Regions from separate parts of the Homo sapiens genome. Here region 1 is linked to region 2. Evidence: fine-mapped expression QTL. A gene starts in region 2. The other region holds a variant in brackets. All regions are shown on one strand. Distances are between the middles of the regions.

Region 1 (5,371 bases), 41 kb before region 2:
GCTGTGGACGGTGAACATTAAGACGAAAGAGGTGACTCGCGTGGAACCTGAAACACGGACGCCTTTCTTCCAAGAAGGGCTGTGGCGATCAGGCCACTCAAGGCAGCCAGCCCCTCAGCAGGGCACGATGGCTAATGCTGCCTGGACCGCAGGGACTTTTTGTTCGATTTCAAGACACCAGACTCCCTCTCCTTCTCAGGGTCGAAGACTTCTGTAGACAGAAAAGGCAGGAAAGACACAGTGAATGGAGGGGCTGGCAGCACAGGGGCACCAGCTGGAGCCAGCAGCTACGTCTCCTGTGCCAAGGACTGTCCTAGGTCTACACCATCCTTCACTGCTAACCCTCCCCAGCCCGTGAGGAAGGCAGAGTTAGCCCCAGTTCAGAGAGGAACAAACTGAGGGAGCTGTGGACATAGCTTTCACGTCCCCCTCCTGAGAGGGCTGCCAGAGAGAGAGCCTTGTCTAGACAAAATGCTCATACACGTTGGAATTTCAGCTGGGTTCTAGAAAGTCCTCTGGAGCGGTGCACGTAGCTCAGCCTTTACTTCCTGCAGTGGCTTCTTCTAGGATTCAAGCTGCTAACACGGACCCCCACACACCCTGGAGCCCTTCAGGGCCCTGTCTCCAAGGGCTTCCCTGGCACCAGGCCCCACGTCCTGCTGGCCCAGCCCCTCCCATGAGCTCCTCAGGGCCCACGCACTTGGGATCTCGTGGGGCCAGTAGTCGTTGCAGTGGGGGCAGCGCGGTTCAGCATTCGACTGGAAGTACTTGGCCACGCAGGGTAAGTGCATCCTGATCCCACAGGTTTCGCAGCTTTGACCCTGAAACAGGAAAGGCCAATGACGGCGGAGCTGGTGCACACCTCCATGTTCTGCAAACCTCCGGGGAAGCCACAAGGGAAATGGGCAGCAGGTGGCATCGTGTTATCTTCTGGGCCCCAGATTAATATTGAAAATAATCCCAAACGCCTTAGTGCAGTGGAGTCTTTTGTTTGCTTGCTGCTTGTTGCGGTGGGTTTTACTAAACAATTCTGAACACATGAACGCAGTGACAGAAGCCGAGGGCTCCCAAACTCCTGCACTCAGATCCTGCAGGTGGCGTGTGGACAGCCACAGCTTTTCAGAAGCTTATTTGCTAATGTGAATCAAAAGCTTTCAAAAAAAAAGTGCACTTTGTCCCAGAAACTCCGCCCAAGGAAATAATCACCAGGTGCCCAAGGATACAGGTGTACGAGGCCCGTAAGAGCAATTGCAATTACAAACAGCTACAGCTGCAAAACGATAGAAACTGAAAGACACATCAATGTCCACGCTGGTTCAGCGGTTGCAAAGCCCTGCAAACCAGTGTTAAGACCACTCCAGAAAGCAGCAATCGACAAGAGACACTCACTACAAAACTACCAAGATGATGCAGGTTGCACAGAACACTCAGCCTTCCTGAGAAAAATAAAGTAAGCGAGGGCCCTTGGACCCCAACAGCAGAACCAGGGAGGAGGGCGGCAGTGCGTCCCTGCGGGGCACAGCAGGGAGGCGTCCTGACACGTCCTGGGAGATGGCCTCCGCCAGCTCTTGTGGGAGGATGCGCCAGCAGTGCAGGAGGGCTGGGCCCAGAGCCAGGATTCCGGGAAGTACCTGTACAGAGCCCCGGGAGCCGAGGGCCCAGTGATGAGCTCCCGTGCCCTGCCCTGCGGGTACCTGGATGAGGAGGCTGTGACAGATATTGCAGATCTTCACCGCGTCGGGGTACGTCTCCCGGATGTATTGCTCCATCTCCAGGATGGCCCGGCCGTGCAGGGTGAACTCCCCTTCCTTCTGCAGGGACACACAGGAGGTGGCCACCCTCAGCCAGGCCCTCTCCCCATTCACCACCTCTCTTCCCTCTGTGATCCCACAGCCCAGTGCTCAGGAAGACACAAGGGTCTACGCAGCTTTTCACCAACCCCAGCCAACGGGCATCAGCCACATCCCCCTGGCAGAGCCTCGGCAAGGGAAACTGAGGCAAAGACCCTAAAGACATGGAGGCGTGGCTCCCTGACACCCGCCTTTTCTCAGCATCTGCTGTGCCTTCAGACGTGACTTCTCTGTCTGCACGGCAGCCTCGAGGGAGGCAGTCACAGCCCTCCTGCAGATGAGGACGCTGAGGCCCACAAGGGGGTCAGTCTCCCCAGGGTGCAAACCCAAACACCCACTGCTGCCATCCGCCACCCATCCCACTCCCAAAAAGCAGCATCCCTGGTGCCTCCCAGCACTTCTGCCTCCCAGCACTTCTGCCTCCAACTGCAGTAGGGACCCTCAGAGATCACTTCCAGCCACATCACTTTACAGATGGAGCTG[G/A]AAGGAGTCTGGAGAGGGCAGACAGGCCCCATCACACTGTGGGCAGTGGAGCCTCCAGTGGAAGCCAGGCCTCCTGGTTCCCATGCCAGGGTGCGGTCCACCCATCATGCATCCTGAAATCCCTGGGAGAGCCCGGAAGCACAAGAACAATGCAGCTCCCCAGGCCGACCCTACTGCCAGGTCACAGGAGAAAGGCAGCACTGAGGGAGACCCAAGGCAGGCAAATGACACGGGACCCAGGACATGGACCCATGCAGGCTGATTCCAGTTTCTCCACAGTCAGCTCATGCATCGGATATGAACCACACCAGGAGATGACGTCACTGACGCCTGCAAGTCACCCGAGTGCTCAACTGCCTTTTCTGTTATTTTCTAATTTTTAATTTTTACAAGCAAGAGCTGTCACTCCCGTTTCTTTTCTTTTCTTTTTTTTTTTTTTTTTTTGAGATGGAGTTTTGCTCTTGTTGCCCAGGGTGGAATGCAATGGCACAATCTTGGCTCAATGCAACTTCCGCATCCCGGGTTCAAGCAATTCTCCTGCCTCAGCCTCCTGAGTAGCTGGGATTACAGGCATGCGCCACCACGCCTGGCTAATTTTGTATTTTTAGTAGAGACAGGGTTTCACCATGTTAGCCAGGCTGGTCTTGAACTCCCGACCTCAGGTGATCCGCCCACCTCGGCCTTCCAAAGTGCTGGGATTGCAGGCGTGAGTCACCGCACCCAGCCCACTCCCGTTTCTGACAGGTAGAGCCCCCCACCCCATTCCCACCTTCATCCCCACAGTGCAATGTGGAGGGGTGTGCTTGCGTAATCTGGGCTCACAGTGCGTTCGCTCTGGAACACCAGTAGAGGAGCTGGGTGAGCACAGGAAGGAAGGCAGGGCAGAAGCGTGGGGTTGGGGCATGGACAGCCGCTGCGGGAACAGTGGAGGGAGGCCGGGGCACCAGGTGCTTGTGCCCTGCACCGCAGCTGTTGCTGGTGCACAGGGGCTTTGTGTCATCCAAGTGCTGTGGGCAATGGGAGGATGTGACCAGCCCCCAGGCTGTCCTCGGTCCTCAGTCCTATGGCTGTTACCTTCCCCCAAAGCTCCCAAATCCATCATGGCACCCCACCTCCCTGGCCACCGCCCTCTTCCAGCCTCCCCTCCAGATCCATCACGGCACCCCACCTCCTTGGCCCCCACCCTCTTCCACCCTCCCCTCCAGATCCATCACAGCACCCCACATCCCCAGCCACCACCCTCTTCCACCCTCCCCTCCAGATCCATCATGGTACCCCACCTCTCCAGCCCCCACCCTCTTCCACCCTCCCCTCCAGATCCATCACAGCACCCCACATCCCCAGCCACCACCCTCTTCCACCCTCCCCTCCAGATCCATCATGGTACTCCACCTCTCCAGCCCTCACCCTCTTCCACCCTCCCCTCCAGATCCATCATGGCACCCCACACCCCCAACCACCGCCCTCTTCCGCCCTCCCCTCCAGATGCATCATGGTACCCCACATCCCCGGCCACCGCCCTCTTCCACCCTCCCCTACAGATCCATCATGGCAACCCACCTCCCCGGCCTCCACCCTCTTCCACCCTCCCCTGCTCCTGCTGCTCTCTGAGCCCACTCTCCTCCAGCAACGCACTCGCTACCGAACAAGCCTGGCCCTGTCACTCCCAACTCACCCCCACCCCAGGGCTTCCCACCACCCTTAGGTCCAAGAGCCAAGCCCCTAATACGCGTATCTCCCGGGCTGCCCTCCGTCTGCTCGCCTCGCAATCTTTGTGCTCAGATGGCCCTGGCCTTAGCTTCTTGAGTGCACCTGCTGGCCACAGGGCCACTGCCGGGCTGATGATCCTCCCACCCCAGGCTCCAGGCAACTCCCACACAGCCTTCAGCTCAAGTGTCACTTCCTCAGCAGCTGAGGGCCGGTTCCTCTGGGACAGCTGTCATAAAGCCATGTTTCCTTTCCATCTGTACCAGGACTGCAGTGAGATGACCGTCTCACTGATCTCGGGCTCCCCCTCCAGACCATGGCCCCATGGGAGCGGCCACCAGCTCTGGCTGTGCTCACTCCTGTGTCCGCAGCACCTGCTGTGGGGCCCAGCACTTGGCAGGCCTGTGATAAACACCCACGGGAAGATGAAGTAGACCTTGCACTGATCCCAAAGGAATGCCTGACACTAAGCAAGTTCAAGCTCAGACTGAGGCAGGAGCTGCATTTATTTTTTATTTATTTATTTGAGACAGAGTTTCGCTCTTGTTGCCCAGGCTAGATCATGCAATGGCACGATCTCAGCTCACTGCAACCTCTGCTTCCAGGGTTCAAGCGATTCTTCTGCCTCAGCTTCCCGAGTACCTGGGATTACAGATGCCCGCCACCACACCCAGCTAACTTTTTTATATTTTTAGTAGAGACAGGGTTTCACCATATCGGCCAGGCTGGTCTCAAACTCCTGACTTCAAGTGATCTACCCGCCTTGGCCTCCCAAAATGCTGGAATTACAGGTTTGAGCCACTGCACCCAGCCAAGCTGCATTTACTGAACACCTGCTATGTGCCTGAAACTGCACCCAAGGCTCACCATTCATGACCCACTCAGTCCTCTGAGGGCCCATCAGGGGAGGGGCAGGAGGGATGCCCTAGCCCTCAAAGACGACGACAGCCCAGGTGATCTCCCAGGCGCCTCGCCACAACACTTGGAAGTCAGGACCTCGTGTAGGGAGCAGTCCTGGGGTGTATGGAGGTGCGCCGATCAGCAGACGCCCAGCTCCCATGAGCCGCGCTTGCTCTCAGAGGCCTCCCCGCTGACCCCAACCACCTACCACCCCTGGGCCTTCTCCTGGACGGACAGCTGCCTCAGCACCTCCATGCCGGGCCAGTCTCACACAGGACTGGCTGTCCAGGAGTGACGTGTCCTTGGGGTGATATACCCACCTGGAAGGGCCTTGTCAGTGGGCCCCTGGCTATTTCTGTGGGAAGCCCTGTGTCTGAGAGGCCAAGGATCAGACACTGACATGTGGTCTCTCTGATCGAGGTGCTGCCCTA
Region 2 (5,371 bases):
CTTGTTTATGCATATTATGTCCCTTGTCTCTATGAGAAGAGACTGTAGGGAGAATGGTGGGATTAGCATAGACATGTATTACCTACTTAAATAATTTTATTTTATACAAAAATCAGCCAGGCGTGGTGGTGCACGCCTGTAATCCCAGCTACTCAGAAGGCTAAGGCAGGAGAATCGCTTGAACCCAGGAGGTGGAGGTTGCAGTGAGCCAAGATCGCGTCACTGCACTCTAGCCTGGGCGACAGGGCGAGACTCTGTCACAAAAAGAAAAAAAAAATTACTTTTTTTAAAAAAATTAATTAAAACAGTTTATTGGCTTTAAATGTACATCAGTAAATTTTTAAATGCTAAAAAGTTATGATAAAATAATACAGAACCAAAACATCAAAGAAAATAGAGGCTCAGCAGCATGATTTCAATATATTTTCCCGGATAAACAGATTTTTTTTCTAAGTATATGCCTTTTTATTCAAGAACAAAAACTCCCTAAATTCAATGTTTAGAACTGAATTTTTTTTAACTAAGCCCAGAAAACTGGGGCTCATAAAATAAGGCATAATGTGGGCAGCAAAAGAAAAAAGGAGAAAAAAAATGGGAGAAAAATTGGTTTTAATCCCATGTATAATATAGGTTGGCTGGTTTTGTTTTTGTTTTAGCCAATTTAAGGCAGAATTATCTCTCTGCAACCTTGCAGATAAATCCTAGTGTTTTAGCCATAAGTTTCAAGAGTTCATATATACAGATAAACCAATTAAAAAAACCTTTTCGAAGGCTTTTGAAGCATTATATAAATCTTTAAAATTCCTATCACCCACATTTTAAGAAATACATCTATACGTTTAAATTTATTATTAAATTAATTAAATGCATTAATTAAATCAATTTATTTAAATTTAATAATTTTAAAATAGAAATGTTTGTGGAATAAGTAAATCTCAGTCATACCATTCGTGCGGGTGCTAACACAATTCTAGTGCTTCACATGCCCGACCTCATTTAACCCAAACCAGAACAACCTTATGAGCAAAGGGTCACTGACCCCATCTTACAGATGAGGAAACTGAGACTAAGAGGGCACAAGGTGACACACAAGAGTTGGTGGCAGAGATAGACGTGACCATACAACAGCACAGTTCCTGTTTTCAAGGACACTCTCTATCCAGCGAGAGTGAGAAAAGTGAGTGAACAGAACAACTACAATCCAGGTCCCTCATCTGCAACCCTCAAATCTAAAAAGGTATGAATACTAGTGGATGATCGGATGCAGGGGAAAAAAAAAAAAAAGTCTGAATACCAAAACTTGTTTAAGTTGGAAAACTTGACCTGACTTAAGGTGAGGCTATTTATGGTTATTTATCCCAACAGTGTAAATATATGCATTTTTTTTTTTGAGACGGAGTTTCGCTCTTGTTGCCCAAGCTGGAGTGAAGTGGCACGATCTTGATTCACTGCAACCTCCGCCTCCCGGGTTCAAGCGATTCTCCTGCCTCAGCCTTCCGTCTCAGCCTCCCGAGTAGCTGGGATTACAGGCACGCACCACCACGCCCGGCTAATTTTTTGTATTTTTAGTAGAGACAGGGTTTCACCATATTAGCCAGGCTGGTTTCGAACTCCGAACCTCAGGTGATCCGCCCCCCTCAGCTTCCCAAAGTGCTGGAATTATAGCCGTGGGCCACCGCGACCAGGTCAATGTAATATATGCGTATCTTCATAACTTTAGCTGTGGAAAGGGTCGTGTATTTGATTACAAGCCGCTGCTCCAGCCCCCTCTGAGGGTGAAACCTAACATAGAACATAGGGACTTTACCTTTCCAAACTCCGAGAACTCCTCGATTTTAAACGCATCTGGCCTCGGGGCTGTAACATAAGCGGCTGCGGACTTGTACAAAGTAAGAAACTCCGTACACAAAACAGAGGGGAGCACGGAGGGCGGCGGGACAAAGAGGGTGGTCGGCAAAGGCTGTATTTTCCATAGATGTAATCACAGTTTGAATCGAATTTTATATTTTGCTTTTTCACCTGTTACAATGAAAAGTATCTTTACCTGTTAAATCGTAATTACGATTAAAAATATTTTTCACTAAATAGTAAGATTTTTAGATGTCTGCGTGTGTGTTGCGGGAGGACATCCCAGTCCGCTGTTTTCTGCGGCCCCTGTCTGGGCCTCAGTTTCCCCATCAAGAAGGGGGAAACCCCAAGACCCCAGTCCCCGAGTTCCACAGCCCACGGGGACCGACCCCGGGGCCGGACCCCACTGCCTGTCTCGCCCACCCCACCTTCCGTCCTCCCCTCGCCTTCCTTGAAGTCCCTCTTCTTTCCCCTCCAACCCCTAGCTCCCCACGTTACCCACCAGGGAGCCCAAGCGCATCCCAGGCCGCGCTAGCGGATACGGTCGCAAGGTGGACTCTTCTTCCTTTGAGGCGGGGCGAACGCGAACGCGGCGTTCCCATTGGTGGCCTGCGGCTTATTCGCCCGTCCGTTGAGTGACGCACTTCCGGTTCTCCGTTTGCGCCATTGCCCTGGTGGTTCCGCCTCGTGGGTTAGATCCCAAATTACGCCCGCTCTCGATCCTTAATAATGGGAAGGGGCTTCCACTTGTCGCCCTCCGCCTCCTGCACCTCAGTGACTTCCCTGACCAAGGAGGAAGAATTGGCGTGCAGCCTGGGCTTCCCTCAATGGCCACCATTCCGCTGGCACAATGTAGTGCCCTGCCCCGGGCCTCAGTTTCCCCATCTGTGGAACTGAGTGTGGCCTCGACGTCAAAAATGTGGACTCTGGTCCGGTCGCGGTGGCTCACGCCTGTAAGTAATCCCAGCACTTTGGGAGACCAAGGCGGGCCGATCACTTGAGGTCAGGAGTTCGAGACCAGCTTGGCCAACATGGTGAAACCCCCGTCCCTACTAAAAATACAAAAAGTAGCCGGGCGTGGTGGTGTGTGCCTGTAATCCCAGCTACCCGGGAGGCTGAGGCAGGAGAATCACTTGAACCCGAGAGGCAGAGGTTGCAGTGAGCCAGATCGTACCACAGCACTCGAGCCTGGGTGACAGAGCTCAAAAAAAAAGAAAAGAAAAATGTGGACTCTGTGGTCATAGAGCCTGATCTAGAATCCTGGCTCTGCCACTTACTAGTTGGCAGGCGCTTGGGCAAGTCACTGAGCCTCAGTTTCCTCTTCCATTAAATGAGGATATTAGTTCTTGCAAAATAGTGTTGGTGAGATTTACAAGAGATAATAACACCTATATCAGGTGCTTAGCATGGCCATTGAAAAGTGTCACATGGGAGTGCTGATTATATGTTAACTGTTATCTTACCTAGGGATTGTGAGAAAGCAAGTGAAATTACTCGTGGAAGTGAATGGACTGCTTTGAGTCTTCAAGGCGTTAATTTTCCAAACGTTTGAATTCTATCCCTGGTCTGAGAGCTAGGGATGCAGCCTAGCAAGGGAAACAGGTAACTAATATAGAACAGCAGTACCTGCAAATATCTGTCTCTGTGAGGATAGATCAAATCCAGGCTTGGTCACTCACCACCCCTGTGATCTTGGACAACCTCTTAACCTCTCTGGGCTTCAGTTTCATCTGCTAAGTGGGAAAGCAGTGGTGTGTGGTGATTAAAAGCTTCAGCTTTGGAGCTGGATGGTCAACATGGAATCCTGGGCCTTAAACTCAGTGTCTCTGAGACATAGGACAAAGTACAGTCAGCTGTCCATGTTTACAGGTTCCCCATCTACGGATTGAAGCAACTGTGGGTGGTTAATATTTGTGGGGGAAAACAGTAAAAAATAACAGTTCAACAATAAAAATAATACAGATTCCGAAAGCAATACAGCATAGCAATTACTTATATAGCATTTACATTGTATTAAGTATTGTAAGTAATTTAAAGATGATTTTCAATATACTGGAGGATTTGTGTAGGTTAAATGCAAGTATTCTCGCATTTTGTAAGCACCCAATGGTTCTCCTTGCCTGCTTCCTAGACAGAACCAATTTATCAAGACAGGGGAATTGCAATAGAGAAAGTTTAATTCACACAGAGCTGGCTGAACAGGAGACCACAGTTTTATTATTACTCAAATCAGTCTCCCTGGAAATTCAGGGTTTTCAAGGATAATTTGGTGGCTGGAGGTGCTGGGGATTAGAGAGTGTTGATAGGTTGGATCAGAGAGGAAAGGAGTCAAAGCTGTCCTCTTGCACTGAGTCAGATCCTGGGTTAGGACCATAGGACCAGATTAGCCAGATTACAGGGCTGGGTGGCGTCAGCTGGTGCATTAGAACACGGGTTCTGCAAAATATCTCAAGCACTGATTTTAGGTTTTAGAACAGTGATGTTACTCCCGGAAGCAATCTGGGGAGGGTCAGAATCTTGTAGCCTCCAGCTTGCGTGACCTCCTAAACCATAATTTCTAATCTTTTAGCTAATTTGTTAGTCTACAAAGGCAGACCCGTTCCTAGGCAAGGAGGGGATTTGTTTTGGGAAAGGGCTATTATTGCCTTTGTTTCAAAGTTAAACTATAAACTAAGTTCTTTCCAACATTAATTCCACCTATGTCCAGGAATGATCAAGGACAGCTTGGAAGTTAGAAGCAAGATGGAGTCAGGCCAGATCTCTTTCACTATCATAATTTTCTCAGTTATGCTTTTTACAAAGGTGGTTTTGATTTTACATAAGGGACTTGAGCATCGAGAATTTTGGTATCCATGGGGACTAAGGTACCAATCCCTCACAGATACTAAGGGATGACTGAGCTCAAGTTTTCAGCTTCAGTTTGCTCATCTATAAAGCAGGTTTAATAATAACACTTTGTTGATAATGTTATTCTGAAGATTAAAGGAAGAGTAAACGTAAACTACTTAGAAGAGTGTCTCTGGCACATTGTAAGCCCTCAATAAGTGTGAACTAACACCACTAATAAGTTCTTTATAAACTGCCTAATAGGTAGTCAAATAAGAGGGGAAATAAAGCCCTAAGGAGTAATATTTGTGTTTTGTTTGCCCTACATGGTTTTGTGAAATTTTCTATTCATTATCAATATTTAAAGTTGGGGTTTTCAATCTTTGACTGGGCATGATGGCTCATTCCTGTAATTCCAACACTTTGGGAGGCCCAGCTGGGAGGATGGCTTGAGCTCAGAAGTTTGAGATCAGCCATGGCCAACATGGTGAGGCCCCCATCTCTACAAAAAAAATATATACGCGCGCGCGCACACACACACACACACACACACACACGCAAAAATTAGCCAGGCATGGTGGTGAACACCTGTGGTCCCAGCTACTCAAGAGGCTGAGGTGGGAGGACAGCTTGAGCCAAGGAGGAAGAGGTTGCAGTGAGCTGAGATTGCATCACTGCACTCCAGCCTGTGTGACAG

What was found. PIP is the estimated chance that this variant, and not a neighbour inherited with it, causes the effect.
Region 1: its variant is fine-mapped to the expression of NSMCE1 in whole blood (TOPMed, PIP above 0.99).

What each region holds. Positions count from the first base shown.
Region 1 is chr16:27,225,026-27,230,396 of GRCh38, forward strand. NSMCE1 (NSE1 component of SMC5/6 complex) reads right to left here. Exons shown (of 8, transcript NM_145080.4): 6 at 1,695-1,811; 7 at 701-821; 8 at 1-211. The coding sequence ends at 132. Among named protein-coding and RNA genes, the nearest start is that of KDM8, 24 kb to the left of the region's middle. The variant G/A (reference allele first, on the strand shown) is at 2,334.
Region 2 is chr16:27,266,356-27,271,726 of GRCh38, forward strand. It overlaps NSMCE1 (NSE1 component of SMC5/6 complex), which reads right to left and starts at 2,417. Exons shown (of 8, transcript NM_145080.4): 1 at 2,351-2,417. It overlaps NSMCE1-DT (NSMCE1 divergent transcript), which reads left to right and starts at 1,850. Exons shown (of 5, transcript NR_037184.1): 1 at 1,850-1,889. RefSeq lists a silencer at 2,311-2,390 and an enhancer at 5,299-5,371.